Homo sapiens: one gene and its partner. The protein of the gene in region 2 interacts with the protein of the main gene of each other region in a pairwise test. Each region holds a gene or a part of one and is shown on either strand. Other genes may lie near its edges.

The links.
Region 1: the proteins of IRF8 (region 2) and ZBTB17 interact in a two-hybrid assay, tested with the Homo sapiens proteins (one study listed by BioGRID).

What each region holds. Positions count from the first base shown.
Region 1 is NC_000001.11:15,961,139-15,977,194, forward strand, and holds the start of ZBTB17 (zinc finger and BTB domain-containing protein 17), read right to left. Parts: upstream 14,964-16,056; 5' UTR 14,845-14,963; intron 11,988-14,844; 5' UTR 11,901-11,987; intron 6,506-11,900; exon of another isoform or gene 1-6,505. UniProt on the Homo sapiens protein: Transcription factor that can function as an activator or repressor depending on its binding partners, and by targeting negative regulators of cell cycle progression.
Region 2 is NC_000016.10:85,909,162-85,916,161, reverse strand, and holds part of IRF8 (interferon regulatory factor 8), read right to left. Parts: coding exon 6,989-7,000; intron 4,593-6,988; coding exon 4,504-4,592; intron 3,032-4,503; coding exon 2,926-3,031; intron 1,690-2,925; coding exon 1,642-1,689; intron 1-1,641. UniProt on the Homo sapiens protein: Transcription factor that specifically binds to the upstream regulatory region of type I interferon (IFN) and IFN-inducible MHC class I genes (the interferon consensus sequence (ICS)). Can both act as a transcriptional activator or repressor.

The DNA of each region.
Region 1 (16,056 bases), on a different chromosome or scaffold from region 2:
TGTTGAATAAATGAATGAATGATTTCATTAATGAGGCTGCCATGCATTCGAAGTATAACAGATACAGTGTGACAATTAAAATGAGGCATTTACCTAGCAGTTAGCAGACTTTTTTCCATTTAAAACTTTCCCTACAGTATTATCTTTAAGATTTCCAACTATGAACATTAACTGTATAGGATATAAACACCAACTATGAAATACATATGGCAGAAGCCAACATCAGATTTTATATTTCCTATTCCAAATAGGATTAAGCTAAGATTCTGTAAAACTTCACTGGGAAAAAACTAAACGAGTAAGAATATTTTAGAGTAATATTTTGGGGATCCTGAAGCTGTAAGTTGGGCCTGGATAATCAGTGGTCAAGACTCAATGTCTCAGTTTCCAGTGAGTTTTAAAAACGGATGCGGAAGTGCTGTCCTACAGCAGAGTTTTTAGAAGCAGCCCAGTGAGGATTAGGAGAGGCTCAGGGGCCCAGGGCTCGCCCTTCAACAAACAGCGCTGCTGACCTCCAGCCCCTCAAATCCCTACCACCTGCGGCAGCGATCAATCAGCAAAGCTGCTCCCACCCGCCAGCCGCTTTGAAGTGCAAACTTCTGAGAGAAACCTGGAGACCACCCCCAAGTGTGACCTGGCTCCTGGTCCTAGTAAGACCAGGGAGGTGGGGGGAATGGGATGGAGACGGAGGCACAGCTAGTGACGACATGGGGTGACGACATGGGGTGGGGGTCCCAGTGGAGAAGTATATTTTACGATGTTAATATATATGCTTTATCAGTAAACCGGGAGAGGTGGCGCGTGCCTGTAATCTCAGCACTTTGGGAGACTGAGGCAGGAGGATTGCCTAAGTTCAGGAGTTGGAGACCAGCCTGGGCAACATGGTGAGATCCCGTCTCTACAAAAAATCCAAAATAATTTAGCCGGGTGTGGTGGCAGGTGTCTATGGTCCCAGCCACTCGGGAGGCTGAGGTGGAAGGATCACTTGAGCCTGGGAGGTTGAGGCTGCAGTGAGCTGAGATTGTGGCACTGCTGCTCCAGCTCGGGTGACAGTGCGAGACCTTATCTTGAATAAAATAAAAAATAAAATAAAATGAAATAAAAATTGTGATTCCTGATAAGGGACTGTGGGTGGAACTGTGCCCTGTGCAGAGAGGAAACTCAGCCTTGCTACTAACAGCTCCATCTGCTGAGACTCCAGAGGAGGTTACTGGCAAGAGAAACTCACGGGCTGGTTGCTTCCCTTGCAAATAGACCATAACCCACAGCAGCCATGAAGGGAGTCAGGGCCAGAGCTGCTGTGGTGCCGCACGCACAGTGTTTCATGCCGCCTCACCAGTGCTCACAATGATCCTGGGAGGGGGGACTAATACAGTCACCCCCATTGAGCAGATGAGCAAATCACAGTTTAAGAAGTTGTTGCTGACCTAGGTTGCACAGCCCTGCCCACATTCAAGGCCAAATCCATCACACTCTAAAAACTGTGCCCTTTCCGCTATAGAAAAGGACAAAACTTCTGTGGACAAACAGAATACCGGGTTCAACAGATCCTGAGCCTGTACCAAATGGACAAATTCTCTGTCATCACAGGCACATAACAATCTCTCTTCCTTATACTAATGAGTGCGATAAAACATCGTATAAAACCCAGCAGTGGTTGGCTACGGTGGCACATGACTGTAGTCCCAGCTACTCGAAAGGCTGAAGCAGGAGGATCACTTGAGGCCGGGAGTTCAAGGCTGTAGTGAGCTTTGATTGCACCTATGAGTAACCACTGCACTCCAGCCTGAGCAACAGCGAGACCCTGTTTCTAAAAAAAATAAAAAAATAAAGCAAATCCAAGGCTGGGCACAGTGGCTCACACTTGTAATCCCAACACTGTGGGAGGCCAAGGCAGGCAGATTGCTTGAGCCCCAGAGTTTGAGACTACCCTGGGCAAGATAGTGAGAACCCATCTCTAAAGAATATATAAATTAATTAATTTTAAAAGACTCACACAATCCAGAAGTGAACATTACTAAGCATTAATATATTCACAGTTTGCTGCTGCCAGATGAACTGCAAAATGAAAACTATGAAACAACTCCATTTCTGGCAAAGGTGCCCTGGCCAATTCTCCCACCGCAAACAGCCACAAATGCTGACTAAAAATGATAAGACATCTTTTAAAATGCATTAAAGATTGGGAATGATAGTAAGAGGAGTTAAAAATAAAATAAAATGTATCAAAGAACTGATAGGTCAGTAAGTAATACTGAGAGGTCAAAACACATCTAAACAAGGGTTGAAATCCAGAGAGCAAGTGGAGCTTTGAAACCAGGTTTCAAGAAAAGACATTTGCAGAACTGGGCAAGCTTGAGCCCCACCCTCCACCCCATCCCCAGAGGGAGGTCTCACTGAACCTTGGTGGAAAGAAGACAATACAGAAACTGCCTATATCAAATCTTGGTGCTGAACAGAGGAGGGAAAAATCTTCCCTGAGAATGTATAATGATTAGCAGTCCCCCAAAAGGACTACAGCCCAAATTTACACCTTATGAAACACATATTTCAGGCAGATGAAAGTGATCCCAGAAAGAAAAGTATTAAATGCAAGAAGGAAGGAAGAACAATGAAAGTAGTATATATATAAGTGAGCAAACCTAAACAAATGCTGAACTAATGATGCTCATAAAAGTTGTAAAAGGACTGGCACAGTGGCTCACACCTCTAATCCTAGCACTTTGGGAGGCCAAAGCAGGAGGAGTGCTTGAGCCCAGGAGTTCAAGACCAGCCTGTCTTTACCAAAAGAGACCCTGTCTTTACCAAAAAAAAAAAAGTAAAAAGTAAAAATTAGCAGGGTGTGGTGGCGAGTGCCTGTGATCCCAGCTACTCGAGAAGCTGAGGCAGGAGGATTGCATAATCCTAGAAGGTCCAGGCTGCAGTAAGCTGCGATTGTGCCACGGCACTCCAGCCTGGACAACAGCGAGACCCTGTCTCTAGAGAGAAAAAAAAAAAAAGGTTTAAAAAGAACTAAAATGCACACCCACAGAATAAAAGTGGAAGAGAAAGTGATAGCAATTAAAGTGTTCTCAGGTCCTCACTGTTTGAGAGTAAGGTATAAAGACACTGACTAAATTTAGACTTTGATAAGTTATGTAAATTGAAAGCTATACCACATTTATGGATCAGATGACTCAACATCATAAAAATGTCAGCTCTACCCAAATTTATATATTATAAACTCAATGCAAATTCTAATAAAACATACCAACAATTTTTATGGCATTTGACAAATGTAATCTAACATGACAATGGGGCCAGGCAAGATGGCTCACGCCTGTAATCCCAACACGTTGGGAGGCTGAGGTGGGAGGATTGCTTGAGCCCAGGAATTCAAGACTAGCTTGGGCTACATGGTGAAACCCTGTCTCTACAAAAAAGACAAAAATAGCTGAGCGTGGTGGCGTGTGCCTCTAGTCTCAGCTACTTGGGAGGCTGAGGCGGAAGGATAGCTTAAGCCTGGGAGGTCAAGGCTGTAGTGAGCCAAGATCACACCACTGCACTACAGCCTGGGTGACAGAGCGAGACCCTGTCTCAGAAAAAAATAAAATGAAAATGGAAGAGCAATGGGCCAAGGATTTACTAGACACCAGTTCACCAGTTTTCTAAAATGATGTATTTTACAAGTCAGTGTGGTATTTAAACAGAGAACAGGCCGGGCACGGTGGCTCACGCCTATAATCCCAGCACTTTGGGAGGCCGAGATGGGTGGATCATGAGGTCAGGAGTTCAAGACCAGCCTGGCCAAGATGCTGAAACCCCGTCTACTAAAAATAAAAAAAAATTAGCCAGGCGTGGTGGCACGCATCTGTAATCCCAGCTACTCAGGAGGCTGAGGCAGGAGAATCGCTTGAACCTGGGAGGCGGAGTTTGCAGTGAGCTGAGATCGCGCCACTGCACTCCAGCCGGGGCAACAGAGTGAGACTCCGTATCAAAAAAAAAAAAAAAAGAATTTCTGCTCATCAAAAACAAAAAACAATATCCTACAGTGAAAAGACAAGCCACAAACTGGAAGTAGGTAGTTATAACACATATAACTGACAAAGAATTAGTATCCAAAATAAGAAATAAAAAACAAAAAACTAACAAAATGTCTACAAACCACCCAATAGAAAAATGAGCAAGACAATCTGTTGTTTCCGAGAAGATGAAATCTGAATGATCAGTAAGCAACGAAAAGATGCCCAACTCAGAACCAGGAAAATGCAAATCAAAACCACATGAGATGTCATTGTACGCCCACCAGATTAGTAAAAATGTTGAAGTCTGAAAATACCATTGTTGAGAGGATATGAGGCAAACGGAATTGTTGAAGGGTAAACTGGGGAAACAGTTTTGGCAACAACTTGGCATTATTTGTTAAGTTGAAGACGCACATACCCTGTGACTCCACTCCCAGCTGCAGTCCCTGGAGAGGCTGTGCATACATGTCCCGGGAATGTGAACAGTGGCACTGTTTGTCTCAGCAAAATACTGGAAACAACCCAAATGTCCACCAGTAATAGAAAGGATAAATAAATTCTCATACAATGGAACATTATTCATCTGTGAAAATGAAATACCACTCTATGCAACGTGGATTAATGTCAAGGCACTGAAGAAAACAATATGATTATATTAAGTTCAAAAACCTGCAGAATTAAACGGTACATTGTTTAGCAATACAAACACATGGTAAAACTATAAAGAAAAGCAAGAGTGATAAAAGCAAAACTCAGGGATGACTTGGGCCGGGTGAGATCAGGGAGGGGACACAGGGGACTCCAAAGGTAACAGTAAGTTCTTTTTGGAAACTGGGTAATGGGTACATGGAAGATGTTTCTTGTATCCTTATTCTTTACACTGAACACATTCTTTTGTATGGAGTCAACATTTAACAAAAACGATTTACAAAATTAAACAAGTTCTTTCTTACTTTAAATCATTTGCCAAGCATTAATTTGGGCTGCTGACTGAGTCACAGTAACGGGGGAAAATCCCTGAGGGGCCCACATGGCCCCGAGACTACAGAAATGAGAAGTGCTTTGCTCTCTGAGCTCTGGTGATACAGCTTCCCATGGGGCAGGCTGGCGAAATTCGAGTGGAGCCTGCCACTCGGGACAGGAAAGTGACTGCTTAGGTTAATAAGTTCCAGTATAGGAAGTGGTGCGGCTGGGGTGGGGAGAACAGATTCTACTGCCAGACCTTTCAAGACCAGAAGCTGAGTAGATTTTTGATGTTACAATGAACCCACTAAGCCTGCTTTCTGGCCCGCTCTCCACTCGCAGCGGGAATTCCCACCTCTGAGCCTCTGTCCACACTGCTGTTTAGATATGAGTGAACAACTCTCAGTTCTAACCATGCCCTTTGCTTCCTTCCTTTGAAGCCCAGCCCTACGAACCATCTCTCTTCAATTCATAACAAGCACGTTTGAATCCAAGAGCCTAAGCCCCAGTTTTCTACACGTATCTGTGCTGACTGCATTACTGAGGTCAACCTTAATCACCCTGGGACTGTCAAACTATTGATGTCCATAAGGATTCTCTGTGCTGGCATTCCACACACACGCAGCAAGGTTCAATGAGCCACAGTACTTACTCTCTGACCTCTATTATTTCAACCATTTAAAAATTGTGGCCACGGGAGGCTGAGGTGGGAGGATCGCTTGAGCCCTGGAGGTCGAGGCTGCAGTGAGCTATAATCCCAGCACTGCACTCCAACCTGGGCGAAAGAGCGAGACCCTGTCTCAAAAATTAAATTAATTAATTAATTAATTAAAAAACAAAAAAAAAAGCCGTGGCCAGCAAAAGAAGTAGATTATGATCTCCAGGACAATATGTTTTGTACATAAAATGTATTTGGAGTTTTTTGTTTTCATTAAAGTTGAGGTCCCTCCCTACTGTGATGTCAAACCCAACAATGGGTCACCCCACAGGACACCACCCCTGCTCGCACCTGTAATCCCAGTCCTTTGGGATGGCGCAGGTAGGTGGATCACTTGAGCCCAGGAGTTCAAGACCAGCCTGGGCAACGTGGCGAAACCCTATCTCCACAAAAAACAGAAAAATTAGCTAGGTGTGGTGGTGTGTGCTAGTAGTCCCAGCTACTTGGGGGGCTGAGTCAGGAAGATCGCTTGAGCCAGGGAGGTCGAGGCTGCAGTGAGCTATGACAGCTCCACTGCTCTCTAGCCTTGGCCACAGAGCAAGGCCCTAATTAAAAAAAAAAAGTGTTATATGAGGCTGGGTTTGGTGGTTCAAGCCTATAATACCAGCACTTTGGAAGGCTGAGATAGATGGATTGCTTGCGCCCAGGAGTTTGGGACCAGCCTGGGCAACACGGCGAGATTCTGTCTCTACCAAAAAAAAAAAAAGTTTCCTGGGAGGAGAGGGGGGTAACTTACTTTCCACAGGTACACGCTTGAGAACCTTCTGATTTTTCTACCTTGTGCATGCATTCCCATAGTAAATGTTGTTTTCTTCCTAAACTCTGCATATTTTCTTTTTTGACCCTCAAGAGTCTTCTATCAAATAACAGTAATTATGGAGCCAGGGACTCGACTAAGCACTTTACATGCATGACCTTATTAATAATTCCACCCAATAAAGTTATATTCAAGGTAACTATTATCCACATTTTACAACTGAGGAAACTGAGGGTTAGAAAGGTCAAGTACTTTGCCCAAGGGCATACAGCTAGTAATTATAAGAAGCAAACATAAGCCCACATACGCCTGGCTTAGGAGTTTGTGTTCCTAACTGCTACCCTATACTGCAGGGGTTTCTTAACTGGGGGTGATTTTGTGCCAGGAGATATTTGGCAATATCTGGAGACATTCTGGGGTGTCACCACTGGAGAAGAGTTACCACTGGCATCTATGGGGAGAGGCCAGAGACGCTACAGAAACCCACCCCCCACAACAAAGACTTATCTGGCCCCAAATGTCAGAAGTGTCAAGGTTGAGAAACCCTGCTATACTGGAACAAGACAAAAAGACAGAGAAACCATCTTCTGACCAAAACTCTCACAGTTAAGGTCAGAGTTCACCATGTCTATTTCCCATATGACAGCCAAATGCCCAATAAACAAGAAGCATGCTCAGCCCTCAATTACATGGAGTTTTCTCCAGCCCCAAATGCCAGTTCCTCCTCAGCCAATCAAGGCTGATCATCCACTCATCCGACACTTGCTGAGCGCCAGCTGTGTGCCAGGAAACAAGCTACACAGTGGCAGTACCAGGATAAATAAGACCCTGTCCTGCATCCAAGATGCTGGCGGTCTCATGGGAAGGCAGGCAAGGAAGCCTCGGATCATAATTGAGGTGAAAATGTGTTAATAGAGATCAAAAACAGGATGCTAAGAAGTCGCAGGGGAGGGGCTCCAAACTCACTTGGGTTGGGGGAACTGGGAATGGCTCAGAAAAGGCTTCCCAGAAGCATCTGAACTTGAAGGAATTAAACAGGCAGAGAGAATCCTCAAAACACCCCTTACCAGATCTCTCAGGATATGGTCTCTGAGTAGCCAAGGTTTGATGACTTTAATTAGAAAGCTTGGGGGAACTCTCCCAGAAAACAGAAGGGGCACAGAGTAGTCCTTGACTGTCCATGCACAACCTGGATAGCCCCTGCCACAGGGCAGGATGGCAACCTGGCGTCCCCACAGGTTTGGGCCTTCCTCAACTTCAAACCTGACTGGCCTCCAGCTTCCAACCAGCCTGTACCTTGCAGCAGGAGGTAAGTAACATTTCATAAATGTCCACTATACCAGGGGTTCCCAACCCCTGGGCCACAAACCACTGCTGGTCCGTGGCCTGTTAGGAAGTGGGCTACATGGCAGGTGAGTGGCGGGCGAGTGAGCACGCAAGTGAGCGAAGCTTCAACCTGTATTTACAGCCGCTCCCCATCACTTGCCATTACCACCTAAGCTCCGCTTCCTGTCAGATCAGCAGCAGCATTAGATACTCACAGGAGCTCAATCCCTATTGTGAGCTGCACATGTGAAGGATCTAGGTTGTGAGCTTCTCATGAAAATCTAATGCCTGATGATCTGTCACTGTCTTCCATCAACCCCAGATGGGATCGTCTAGTTGCAGGAAAAGCAGCTCAGGACTCCCACTGACTCTACATGATGGTGAGTTGTACAATTATTTCATTATATATTACAATGTAATAGTAATAGAAATAAAGTACATAATAAATGTAAGGTGTTTAAGTCAACCTGAAACCACCTCCCACCCCCCACCCCTCAGCCCCCTTTCTGTGATAAAATTGTCTCCTACAAAACCGGTCCCTGGTGCCAAAAAGGTTGGGGGCTGCGGGCCATGCCACGGCTGGTGGTCCTAGGTGCACGGGGGCCGAGGGGGCACGAGGCAGTAGTGTGGGGACTCCAGGTCCCAGAGGCCGCTCATGGGGTGGGAAGTGTGAGGCCGCTGCCTGCCTGGGCCTCGGAGGGTGGGGGGAGCAGGGCAGGGAGATGATAAATTGACCATTATCTCAGGATGTCTCTTTCTGACTGCCAATATCTTCGCCATCGCCAGCATCACCAACCCAGACTGGCTCAACACCAGGGAGTCTGTGGGAGCACTCACTGTGGGCCTCATGGGACAGTGTCAAACAATGCGTGGACGAGAGGGGATGTGCATCCCTCCCCAGCTTCCCCTGGAGTGGGTCACCATGCTGTTTTTTATCATCATGGGAATCATTTCATTGACTGTAAAATTCCCCTTAGACAGACGGAGGCAGCTAGGACTCTGGAGTCAGGTGTGAATCTGCCCTCCCATTGATTGTCACATGTGGTTTGCTGGTGGCTTCCCACTGGGGAAGAGAAGCTACAAAATATGTTCGATGGATAGCATTCACTGGGATGATGCTTTTCTGTATGGCTGCCGTCATATTTCCAATAGGATTTTACATCAATGAAGTCAGAGGTCAACCTTATAAATTACCCAACACCACAGTAGTTGGGTCATCATATGTACCTTTTGTCTTATCAATTTCTTTACAATAGTAGGACTTCTATTTGCTGCCAAGTTTATTTGCCAAGCTGATAAATGTCTAAATTGCTTGACTCTCACTTATTTTTGAAGGGTGAGGAGGACAAAGGCGAGACATCTGAGCAGCCCTCATGGGAAGATGCTCACATGAAACTGATGCTGAGAAGGAAAAATAAAAAAAGTTTTGATTTGCTCTCACTATGCACTTTGGACTTAAAGAAGAAAAAAAAAAAAAAGGAAGAGCCTTTTTGTTTTATTTTTGAGACAGAGTCTCACTCTGTCACCTAAGCTAGAATGCAGTGGCGTGATCTCAGCTCACTGCAACCTCCGCCTCCCGGGTTCTCCTGCCTCAGCCTCCCGAGTAGCTGGGACTACAGGCACCCACCACCACACCCAGCTAATTTTTTTTTTTTCTCTTGAGATGGAGTCTCGTTCTGTCACCCAGGCTGGAGTGCAGTGGCGTGATCTCGGCTCACTGCAACCTCCGCTTCCCAGGTTCAAGTGATTCTCTTGCCTCAGACTCCTGAGTAGCTGGGATTACAGGCGCCTGCCACTGCGCCCAGCTAATTTTTGTATTTTTAGTAGAGACGGAGTTTCACCATGTTAGCCAGGATGGTCTCGATCTCCTGACCTCGTGATCCACCCACCTCAGCCTCCCAAAGTGCTGGGATTACAGGCGTAAGCCACCGCGCCCAGCCAGGAGAGCCTTTTCCATAACCAAATACAGACAATACTGACTAAATCTCCTGAGCATATTCAGGCAGTCAGGTCTGCACTGTGATAGCAACCTAGAGAAGGAGAATGCTTTCTACTGAAAAGCATGTGGCCCTTTGTGACTCTGTTGTTCCATTTTTAATATCTAATGATTCAATAGAGGGAAAAAAAAAGTCTAAGTAGTTATGTATCATGGTGGACCAGAGGGATGCAAGAGAAGTTCATGTGGGGCTGGCCTCACCTCCTGAGAAATCAGTGTTCACAACTTCCTTGTAATAGTATGAGCCTTTGGCACCATTACTGCACCAAGAAGCCAATAGATCAAAACTTGTTTGCTAAAATGTATGTAAAAATTCTGAAATTCCCTATTCTGTGTGTATGAAAAAAAAAAATCAAACACTAAGACACATGTTTTGGGTAGGTAGGTGGGTGGGTGGGGGAAATCTCTCTCTCTCTCTGTATGTGTGTATGTATATATATATATGTACATACACACACAATATATATATATACACACACTATATATATATACACACTATATATATACACACACACTATATATATATACACACACACTATATATATACACACACACTATATATACACACACACTATATATATACACACACTATATATATATACACACACACTATATATATACACACACACTATATATATACACACACACTATATATATACACACACACTATATATATATACACACACACTATATATATACACTATATATATAAAATATATATTTTGCTGACAGAAAAAAAAAAACGAAAAGGTTGGGGAGTGCTGCACTATGCAGCAAACCCTGTGAATTACCTGCCTGACCTCATGTAATTCTCCAGACAATTCTGTGAATTACCTGCCTGTCCTCATGTAATTCTCCAAACAATTCTGTCATCCCTATTTTACAGATGAGGAAACTGAGGCTCAGCAATGAAACTGAGTAAAAGGCTTGCTGTCTGATGTGTCAGAAGACAATCTTGTGATTAGGAAAATTAATAGTCATTACTTTTTTTTTTTTTAACTCTTTGGGACACAGTTTCAGAAGGAACTGACTGTCAGGACACAGAGCCACTCAACGGGAGGGCAGATTCACACCTGACCCCAGAGTCCTAGCTGCCTCTACCTGTCCAAGGGGAATTTTACAGTGATCAGTCCAAAATGCGCGGTTTGCAACATCTTCACCCCCTCAGGAAAGCCTTCCAGCGCCAGTGCATCCTCCCTGTGTGCGCACACCCTCCACCAGCCCTCCAAGGTATTTCCTGCATTGCATTGTGAGGATACACATGGCTGGGAGCACCTGCTCCCGGGATTCAGTCTTACTTGTGCCAGCATCCCTAGCACCCAGCACAATGCCTGACACATGTTGGGCACAGAAACAATGAATGGATAAACAAGCCTGGCCTCCCTGGGCCCAAGCCCTGTAAACCTACCCAAAGCCAGAGCAGCCTGCCTTGGGGACTCAGTGGACCTCCCCTCAGGCTGGGATCACACCCCCAAGAGAGTAATCCAGACAGACTGAGGACAGAGCAGGTTCTCTCAGCCAGCTTTTTCTCCAGCACTGAAACAGTCACAATCTGTTCTTTAGCTGTGCACCAGATGCAGGAACTGGCTTATGTTTGGGAACCATGTTGCACAAAAATCCCACCTTAAACATTAGAACTTTAAAAGGAATGAGTGTGTGCTCGCTGCTCTGTGTCCCTTTTTGCCCTAGGGAGATCATACATGATGGCAGGAGCTACAGCAGCCAGCTTGGACCATGAGATGGAAGCCTAAGTTTGAGCAAGAAAAGCCACATTATCAAAGGAATCCTGCTCCCAGATGATCTCACAGAACACAGCAAGCTGTGCTACCAGCTCTGGACTGTGTACTTCCAGAATGTTAAGGAGCAAGGAATAAACTTCTGTTTCCACCACTGTAGATTTCACCTAACTAAAGGCGTGAGCATTGCCCAGTGATCATCCACTCTGGCCTCTCTCTGCAGGTAAAACAATAATAGTAAGATCAACAATTTCCCAACCAAACTGTAACTGGGATTTTGTCATTACTATATAATTTTGAAGAAAAGGCTATCAGGAAAGAATCATTTGAATCATGTTGAACCTAGAGAAAAAGGACAAACTGATCTGATTTGTTTCATCCTTGAGTATTACAGACATACCTCAGATTTCCAGACAGCCCAGGCTACTCTTTTCTGACAGTTTGCCTGTGTAAACTCCAGCTTGGCTCCCCTCGTCCGGCTCATTACCTGAATCAATGACACACAAGTGGAAAATCTGATGAGAACCTAAAGGGTACCTGCTCCCTCAGAGCTGCCTTTTCATGCATCCATCAAACATAGACAAATACAGAGTGCTTAGCACAGAGCCTGGCCCAAGGAAGTGCTGAATAAATGGCCTGCTCTGTGCCAGATAGCATGCTGACACTGGGACACAAAGATGCACAGACTCAGCCTCAGGCCCTGCTCTCAAGAACTCCAGCTCAATAAGAGACAGGACACAATGTTAAGAAGGAAAAACGACAAGGTTTGTATCCAAGCATTACTGCAGCATTGGCACTGCTCTGGGATATCCTGGACACTTTGTTTCTCATTGCATACCCTACCCTAGGTGAGCTCATCCCCTCCCATGACTTCAGTGACCTTTGATGGTGATAACTACTAGCTGAACAGGTGCACTTGAATGTTTTACAGGCATCCAACTCCAACATGTTCAAAACTAAACATATCTGCCCTCCCCCAGATCTGCTCCCCGTACTGCTCCCTATCACATGGAGCAGCATCCAACACCCATCAGTCAAAAACTGGGGTGATCCTGACTCCTCCCTGCCCCTAACTCTCATCAAACTAATCACCAAATTGTGTCAATTCTATCGCTAAAACCATCTCTCCTCACTCTCTGCCTTTAACTCACACCTTTATTTCTCACTTGGATTATTCTAGCAGGCTCTTAATTGGCCTACAGGCCCACTCCCTTTGATACATTCTTCACTTAGCCAGAGTGATCTTCCTAATCCACAAATCTGATTCGTGGCCAGGCATGGTTGCACATGCCTATAATCCCAGTACTTTGGGAGGCTGAGGCGGGAGGATCATTTGAGGCCAAGAGTTCGAGACCAGTCTGGGCAACATAGTGAGACCCCATCTCTACTAAAAATTTAAAAAATTAGCCAGGTGTTATGGTGCACGCCTGTAGTCCCAGCTAGTTGGGAGGCTGAGGCAGAAGGATCACTTGAGTTCAGATCAAGGCTGCAGTGAACTATGATTATGCTGCCACTGCACTCCAGCCTGGGTGACAGAGCAAGACGTAGTCTCAAAAAAAAAAAACAAAAACAAAAACAAAAAAAACCTGATTCTTTTATTTCAGGCTGGAAATAAAAGAATCCTCCCACCTCAGCCTTCCAAGAAGCTGGGACCACCAGAGGTGTACTCCACCATGCCCGGCTATTTTTTTTTTCCTTTTTTTTTTTTTTTCTTTTAATAAAGATGGGGTCTTGCCATGTTGCCCAGGCTTGTCTCAAACTCCTGGGCTCAAATGATCATCCCACGTTGGCCTCCCAAAGTGCTAGAATTACAGAGTAAGCCACCGCACCTGGCCACAGATCTGATTCTTAAATGGCTTCCCATTAACCTAAAGTTTAAAGTCCTTAACTAGGTTTACAACGTCCCCTAAGACCAGACCACAGCTTGCTGCTGCTTTTTTTTTTTTTCTTTTTTGAGACGGAATCTCGCTCTGTCGCCCAGGCTGGAGTGCAGTGGCGCCGTTTCGGCTCACTGCAACCTCCGCCTCCTGCGTTCGAGCGATTCTCATACCTCAGCCTCCTGAGCAGCTGGGACTACAGGCGCGCGCAAGCACGACCGGCTAATTTTTGTATTTTTAGTAGAGACGGGGGTTTCACCATATTGGCCAGGCTGGTCTCGAACTCCTGACCTCAAGTGATCTGCCCGCCTGGGCCTCCCAAAGTGCTGAGATTACAAGCGTGAGACAACGAGCCCGGCCCAGTCTGCTTCTTTATTTAGCCTGATCTCTCTCTCCTCTCTCTACGAAGATGAGTTTTCTCACAAACTACACCCTTAACTGGGAATACCCGTTTTCCTGCCTCACTCCGCTGAGCTTCCCTTAGATCTTAGCTTTCTGGGGGACAGAAGCCTCCCGGGATTCCCCCTAGGCTGAGTGATGTGTCTCTACTCCGTGCTTCAGAGGAAGGAGGGCTTTCTGCCCTCGCAGCAGTATCAGAATTGCTGATTTACCTGTATGTCTCCCACATGGGTCTCTGAGCTCTGGGTGACAATGGTGATACAATTAATAACAGCAACAAACACACAGCATTTACTTTGTACCCATAAGTGTTCTAGGAGCCTCATTTCCCCTTTATTACAATCTTAGGAGGCTGATTTTATTATCATCTCTGCTTAAAGGATGAATAAACCCAGGCAGAGAGAAAAAGCCAAAAGTGCCTAAGGTCACAGCAGGGAATGGGGATTCAAACCCCGCTGCTGGGCTCCACGGTTCACACTCCTAACTCCAGGATCGAGGATCCTGGAGGATCGAGTCCGCCCGCATCACTCGCTCTAGCTTCACCATCTATCAGGTGCTGAACCACCGTCCGCAGTACGAATGAATGAATGAAATGCTTTTATACAGGGACAGCGTCGGCCTCCTCTGTCAGCTCCTCCTAGGCCCGGGCAGCCCCGCTCCCTCCCGCCCCGGCCGGCCGACAGGAGCTGCCCCGGCACTGCGCTCCCTCGCGGCCGCAGAACGCCCACCCTCGACAGCGCGCGGGGTCAAGGGGCGGTGACAGCCGTGCGGCGGGGGCGGAGATGCTACCAGCTGGGGTGTCATCCAGCCCGGGAGGTGACACGCGCCCCCTCGCCCGGGCGGTCGCCTGGCCGCCCACTCCCCGCCAGCACGCCCGGCGACGCCCCCCGCCCCGCCACCCCACAATCTCCCGCCCAGCGGTGTCCCCTCAGCCCCGGTTGGCGTCCCATTCCACTTCCCTCCCCTCCCCCACACAACCGTCACCGGCGTCCCACCGCGCCCCATCCTCCGCCGCCTCCGCCCCGGCTCCCGGGACTTCCCCGGCCCCGGGCGATTGTTGACACTCACCTGCCATGTCCCGGACCCCACCGCAGAGGGAGGTGCATCACGGCCGCGAGAAGGCCGGGGACGGCACTCCAGAGCAGACAAAGGGCGCCGCCATGTTAGAGTCGGGCGGAACCGACCTCGCAGGCTTCCCGGCTGCAACTTCCGGCGCATGCGCAGCGTCCTCGCTAGGAGAGCGCCCATAGACAGACGCATGCGCCTAGCTATCCAAAAGTTCCACCTTACAGTACTTCGGCGCTCAGAGTTGTCCTCATTGTACCCCTGCCTTGGTTTCTCTTCCAAATATAACAGTAACATCATGTGTTCAGCTCTTACTGTGTGCCAGGCACTGTGTTAAGCGCTTTACATGCATTATCTCTTTAAATCCTCACACCAATTATAAGATAGTATTATTCTCCTAATTTTAAAAAAGGGAAAACAGACTCAAAAAGTGTAAATCAATGTCCATGGTCACATATCTTGTAAGTGGTGGACCGGAGATATGAATCTACTTGTGGCTTCAAAGCTGCAGATCCCAGTTGTGTTTTTCTACCTTCTAAACCGAACATTATCCCCTTCCCTGATTGTCTTGGACGTGAATAAAGGTGTCTGAAAACAAAAGTGTCTGCAGACTTGCATGGCCCCTCCGTGGCCCCTCTTCTACCTTTTTGGTAGCTCTAGGCCACTGACTTCTCCACTTTCTCACAGTCTGAGGGCTTTCTCCTTTGTTTACTTCTAGGCCTGCATATTTTCCATAATCTATAATTTTAACAACACTCTTGCCACTACTGTAAGCTCTTTTGCCCCCTTGCCTTTTTGTCACATGGATTTGGTAAGAATACCAACGCTGTGTGAATCCAAATGCACCTTTTCTCTTTGTTAGCTCCCAAACAGCCAAGCACAGCTGAAGAAAGTATGCAGTGGGGAGACTGTTCCCTAGAGATTCATGTCCACTAGCCTTCAGTGGGATGCAACATATGCCAATCTGGCAACTCACTCCTGTCTTCACAATGGCTAGAGAAACAAAAAAGCCCAGCAGTTGACTTCACCCCTTCTTGTCTTTAGGTTTTTTTTTTTTTTTTGGAGACAGAGTCTCACTCTGTCTTCCAGGCTGGAGTGCAGTGGCGCTGTCTCGGTTCACTGCAAGCTCCGCCTCCCGGGTTCACGCCATTCTCCTGTCTCAGCCTCCAGAGTAGCTGGGACTACAGGCGCCCGCCACAACACCTGGCTAATTTT
Region 2 (7,000 bases):
TGTGCTCGGCACAGGTAAGCACCAGTTAAAGAAACTGGGTAACAGGACAAATGCTTATCTACACAGACAAGACTCCTGAAGTTATAAACCACAGACTATGGTCTACACAGCTCATATCAGGTGCTGTGCCCAGGGCTTGGGACCTACCAGCACATTTAACCCTGTAAGGTAGATTATTATTATACCCATTTTCCAGGTAAGGAAACTGAAGCATGGATTTACATAGAGGTGGGGGCGGGGCTGGACAGAGGTACCAAAGCTCACAGCTTCTAGAAGGATGTTCTGTGCATGAGGCAGTGGCTATGACCCTGCTGGACTAATTCAAGGACATGCTCTCCCCAAATTGTGCCTCTGCATCTCACCGAGATGGCTCAGTTCTGTGCCTGGCTACTCCACAGCCCCCGGAAAGCACTGGTCAGCAGACTCCCAGGCCATAGCCCAGTGGCTGGCGAGCCCGGAGGCTTAGCCTCATGACCCAGGCCTCCCAGAACTGAGACCCTGTGAGCATGGCGGCTGCCGGGCACAAGGAGGCCTCAAGAACAGGCTCCAGCCAGAGGCCTGCGCGACCTGGATGAGATCCTGAACCTCCCAGCCTCAGTCTCCTCATCTGTGAAGCCGGAGTGAAAACAACCCCCCAGCTCAAAGGGCTGCCAGGAAATAGACAAGAGCTTCATGGACAGGGCATTGCCATCTCGACAGTTTTCCTGCCTGGGTGAGCACCGACCTCTGCTACCCACAAAACTGTCCCATGCAGTCCTCAGCCAGCACGCTTCTATCCCTGCCCCATTTCCTCCCCTGCCCAGAGGCCCAGCCCTAACGTTCTGTGGCCCATCTGATGAGACCAGCTGCTCGCCTCCCACAGAACCAGCCAATGCTGGAAGATGCCCCAGCTTCCTTGTTCAGAAGATGCCGTCACCACGCCTGAGCGTCACTTCCAGGGGCAGCTGGCAGAAGTGCAGCCAGGGTCCTTAGCCGCTGAGACTACACACAAAGGCCACCTCTGCCCACCGCGGGGAGGCCCCCAGTCTGGAGCACACAAGCTACCTGAGCCCGCGAAATGGGAACAGCTGCATCCACCTAGAGGTGGTGGGCAGGGGAGCCTGAGATGAGGCTCTGAGAGGCTCCACCACTCCACCTGCAGCCCCAAAAGAGAGGCAGCGCTGGGACAGACGCTGGCCTGTCCCTCACTGTCTCTCCTGCACAGTTACAGCCTCAAAGAGTACTCTGTCTACTTGCTGGTCCAGTCCAAGAAAAGTGGCCTCAAAAGAGGCCACTCGCCAGCTCCTGACCAAATGGTGAGGAGGAGAAATTGGGGCCTCGACTTCCACACCAGGTCCTGCTCATCCTCAGAACCGGGCCTAGACTTCCACACGAGGTCCTGCTCATCCTCGGAACGGAGCCTCGACTTCCACACCAGGTCCTGCTCATCCTCAGAACCAGGCCTAGACTTCCACACCAGGTCCTGCTCATCCTCGGAACGGAGCCTAGACTTCCACACCAGGTCCTGCTCATCCTTGGAACCAGGCCTAGACTTCCACACCAGGTCCTGCTCATCCTCGAAACCCCGCAACCCTGCTTGGGTTATCTGGGCTTTGTCTTCAAACAGTGCCCACGCCCCTCTCAGCCCGGACCACCCCGTACCTGAATGGTGCGCGTCGTAGGTGGTGTACCCCGTCACCAGCGGCACGCCTGCAGGAGAAACAGAAAAGCAAGCTCAGAGCCACCCAGGTGTGGTGTACAGGGAGTAACCCCAATCGCTCCTTCTCCAAAAGTCCCTTAAAAGGCTGCACATGGCGTGCCAGAGGCTCCAGGGAGCACAGGCTTCCGCTGAATTCAGTGCTTTTCCCCACCAGAGCAGAGAGCCATTGTTTCACAAATGCAGAAAACCAGAGTGGCAAGTCGGGGGGACTTCCTCTATGCTGTGGGATTTCTGACCATGTGTCAATGTGACACTGTGGGGCCACATTTCCTTCCCACCTCAAGCACTTACCCCCAGAATACCACTGGACTGCATACCCACCACCCAGGGCTTATCTCTGGGGGAGAGCCTGGGGGTGCAAGCTAGCTTTCCGGATGGTGTTCCTGCAGCACAGACAGAGGTGCCTTTCCAGGGACCTCTTACTCGACACCCAAGGCCTGGCAACCTTCAAGGCCTCCGGGGCCAGCTGCCACCTCCCAGACTCCCACAGGGGATGTAGGGCTAGGGGGAAGACGCCGAGGGAGGAAGCAAACACATTCACCGGCTGCAGAAGCCTGGGCCTGGCGGGGGCGGGGGCATTTCAAGCAGCTGGGGGTTCTGAGTGGCTCATCAAAAGAGAATCAAAGGATGAATGCCTCACTTAACCCTCGTGACCCCATGGCGCAAGTCCTGGTTTCTCTGTTTTACGGATGAATAAACTGAGGCTCAAGATCTGTAACTTCCCAGCGTGGGATTCAAATCTAGGGCTCTGAACAAACTTCCTGTTCCTGGTCTGAGTTCTCCTCTCCTCCAAATGCCCTGGGCTCTCTTTGGTTCTGAGGGGGTCCTTAATGTCGTAACAGACTGGCCGACCTAAGGGAGTACCCAGGGAGGGGGCGCCAGCGTGGCCAAGAGCTGCATCTTCCCTCTGGCCTTACACAAGTTCACTAGACCCTCTTCCCTGGACTTTCCCAGGAGCGTGGGGAGAGCTGGCATGGACATCACCTAGGGAACAAGCAGCTTGTGCCCTCCTGAGAAGCAGCGGAGAGCAGGGCCAAAGGCACAGCTGGGCTCTGCCCTCATGTTGGGAAACCAGGGCCATCGTTCTTCACCTCTCAGGGCTGAGCTACCTTTAATGAGACATGGATCATGATAGCAACAACCACCCCCACTCCGTCCCTGGCTGGTGGAATGCCGTAAACCCTTCAGGCCATGCCTGGTGACAATTCTAGGCCACCCACCCTCACCTGTGCTGGGCTGCTGCGCCCACCAGTCTGGAAGGAGCTGACTCCGACAGGCCTCCGGCGGGGAAGGGCTCCTTTTGATCATCCCCATGTAATCGTCCACAGAAGGCTGCACAGTCAGGGGAGGGAGAGGAGGGCAGCTCAGTCACTGATCTCCCACCTGGGGCTCCAGTGTTTGTAAAAATGAACAGTTCATGTGTAAGTAAAACCATATTGTCACCTTTATCTCAGGAGACAAAAGTCAAGTTTCACTTTGCAACCTGAAAGGCCCTAGGCCTTAAATCTACCAGGCTTAGCATTCAAACCATGTGGCCAAATTACTAGGCTCTTTGGGGGCCACTAATAAGTTTCTTGGCCCTTTCCACGACCTGCCTGTTGCAGACCCAGTGTTCCAGATTATCCAATTGCCCTCAACGCCCTGGACACGCAGACAAGCTCTGAGACACCAGTGAACAGTGATGCTGGCCAAAGGCTGCCATGCTTTCAAGAATCTCGCTCAACGAGCCACATGCAGATGTTCAATCTCTGGCCCATTCCTTAAAGGAGGCTGATAAATCCAATTATGAAATGTTTTGAAATTGCTTTTCTTGTGACCCCGGTGTGGCAATCCGATTATCTCACTCTCTCAGCTGAGTCAGCAGAAAAGCCTTCTACAGAAAACAGGACATTGGTGGAGGGCCACGAAGCCAAGAATTCACTCAGTCGGCTGCCAAAGACCACCCAGACACTTGGCAGCTGCCTGTGCAGAAGAGCAAGGCCGTTCGGGTAGGTTACATTCTGTTATCTTCATTCTCTGACAGCCAAGCTACTCTTAAGGATTCCATTATTGCTATGTTATTAAGAAGAAGAATTTATGCAGTACTCACACACAACCTTTTGCAAAGGCTGCACGAGGTTTAGTCATGCAAATGTCCACCTTGTAATACCCATGAAAAGCATAGTTAAGAGGCCAAAGACAGAAGAAAAGGGCATCCCAATAGCTGAAATGGGTATACAAAAGCCATGTATTCTTGCCTAAGGAGGCCCCGATTATGCTCTCCCTTGTAGCCTGTTAGGAATTTATGTGCAATGTGAACATGCTTGGTTATCCAGCTTTCCAATCCGTTAAGGAATAAAAACTGCACATTAAAAAGGAAGCAATCAAATAGCCATGAGAGCTGGTACAACAACACCCGCCATCATGACAAGCGCAGGCAGCAAGGAAAGTTTACATTTTGTTCTCTGTAGCCTGCTAGGAAGGCAAGGGAATTCACGATGCCATTTAAAAGACTGCTGTCCAAAGTGTTCGAACAGTTTGGAGCTGGAAGGAACTTCACTGACACATAACCGGCAGCTCAGGCCCAGCCCTAGGGATGAAGGAGGGATCTGGCGTGAGGGGTTGACCTGTCGGCAGAAGCTGGCCTGGGGAGGGGGCGCCCAGCCAGTCCTTCCGTTCCAGATCTGTACAGGTGGAGATGCCACTTCCTCAGCGAGCCCGAGGGTCTGGCTGCCTTCATACAGCAAGAACGGTGCCCCTCCCTGCCAGAAGACATGAGACTCCTCCTGGCAGGGCCAGACCCCTGAAATGCTGCCTCTGCTTACCTCCTTGATCAGCTCGTCGATTTCAGAGCGACCGCACTCCATCTCTGTAACTTCATTCACGCAGCCAGCAGTTGCCACGCCTAGTTTGCCTACAGAAAACCAGACAAACACCATGACACATGGCACGGAGGCATCACAGCCTTTGCTGAAGCCATAATCTACTCTGTAAATGCTGAGTTTAAGGAAACATTAAGTTAGTGAGTGTCTTCATTGGTTTGGGAAAGGCACAGAATTTTTTTCCCATGCTTCAGTCATCTGATCAGCAAAGTCAAAAGAGAGAAGTTGGTGGTGGTGGTGGTGGTGGTTGTTTCTGCTAACACTTTTAAAGGATAAAGACAGCACTTTGGTCTCTTTCTTCTATTTTCTGAGATCCAAAATGAGTCTGTATCAGATATACTTTACAGCAAGCATTTGCTAACTTAAGAAGGTTACATTTATAAGACAGGGCATTTGAAAACACTCACCGATTTCCTGGCAAAACGTGTTGGCAGGTTGGGGTCTTTTTTGTATTGCCAGTTGGCAGGAAATCTCTTTTTGGCCTTTCCAAATATACACATGTGCATCAGTGCACACAGCCATGCACACACACACACCGCAGCACCCTCACTGATGCCCAGTGGGCACCAGCCGTAATCACAAACCGCCTAAAGGTGCACAGTGTCCACAGGGGCACGCTGGGCCAGCCTCTGCTCTTTCCCTTCTCATGCCGCTTCCTCAGTCGACAACTTACCTTATGAAGTTTATCAGTGTGAGACGTATCACAACCAACACTTACAAAAATTCATTATTCCCAGTGACCTACAGAATTTACCCACTGTTTCCTCCTGGCTGAATTTTGATTCCATTTCGATAGATTAAAGAATTCACTGAGAAGCTACTGATGGGGAAGTAGGGAGCAGGTGGGGCGCCCACCATGGAGCCTGCAAACCACTGAGGTTAGAGGCGAGTGGGCCCCTGTAGGCAATTATGCAAATGCTACATTGCTTCACCCCTGAGAACCTCCTGCTGCTTCTTTAACATCACTAGCAGGTGATGCTGGCTGCACCCCATGCTATAAACAAGTTGGGGTCACCTGCCGGTTCAAGCCTGACTGATCTTGGGGGTGGCAGTAGGGGCCAAAAGAAACTTCTCTATTCCTTCAAATCACACTTTACTTTTTGGTGATAAAAAAAATTGTCCAAAACTGGGAAATGAGGCAAAAAGATGACTGCTTAGCCTTTCAGGGTCACCCCAGACTATTATATAGAGGTTTCCTCCTAAAGGGCACCCGATTCTCCAAGGGAAGGTCAGTTTGTTGGCCTTACTATTTAGTATTGACTAGGGTTCACGCTCAGTAGAGTTAGGTGCTAATTGCAGACGATTAGGCTACAAACGCCCCAAACCGCAATTGTACTGTCCGGGTCGGGCATCGGCTTTGGCTCAGCTTTCTCGTTCATGGGCCACATTCACCAGCACCTCGGATTCTCTGTCCACCATCTTTACCATCATGCTGCCTCCTTCATGACGATTACACAACTCTCTGACACAGATTCACTATAGATTTGTTTGAATCACCATTTTAACTTCTTAAAAAATTCTAAGTCAACACCCCCACAGCGGGAAGAGTGCAAACTTCAAACTTCTGCACAGCCCCAAGAAGTTTTGGGGGTTTCTGTTTCTTACAGGCATTCGTGGACTACTCAGAAGCTTAGAAGGAGAAAGCCAGAGTGGGTTATTCTAAAAGCCTCATCAAGTGGCTAAGAAAATCAATGTGTTAAAAGCATGTTCTAAACCAGCGCTGGTAATTAGGTTTTATCTCATAAATCAGCTACAATTCATGGCAGCGGCACAGCACAGGGCTTTGAGAAGCCTTCTGAGGCCAGATCCCAGCTCAGTACTTTGGGATTTATTTTAGTGATGTAGGACCAGGGTGCGGCATGTTTTTGCTGTCCTGCTTTAATCTGTCACAAATGCTTTCTTGGGATTTGAGAGCTGGAAGAAACCTCAGGAATGATCACATCCCGGAGTTCCCAAATAACAATCAGGATCTAGTAACACACTGAGGCATATCCCATCTCCAACAACGAAGGCCATGGTGCCATCTTTGACAACTTCATCTGAGAGCTTTACTCCCAACCCTCATGATCCAGGCCTTCTGTGGTCACCATATTTTCCCCTGGCCTCCTCTGCAAGCTGCTGGAAAATGAAAGGATTCCTCATCAGAAACTGCTGGAGGATGCTTGTTCCTGTCCAGGGAGGCCCTACAAATGTCTGTGGTCAGGCAGCAAGTGGGGCACAGGTTGGGCAGCACCCAATCTCCTCCGCCCTTCCCTCTGAGGTCACTGGAAAGAGATCTCAATTTCTGCTTACACGAAGGAGAGAACTGCTTTGTTTAACTGAAACTATGTGCCCCAGACCCTGTGTCTACCCCAGACCCAAGTTCTGTGGTGAAGGCTACAGGCCAGGGCAGCTTCTGGAAGGTTTCATGCCCATAAAGGATAGTTACATTTTTGCTCTT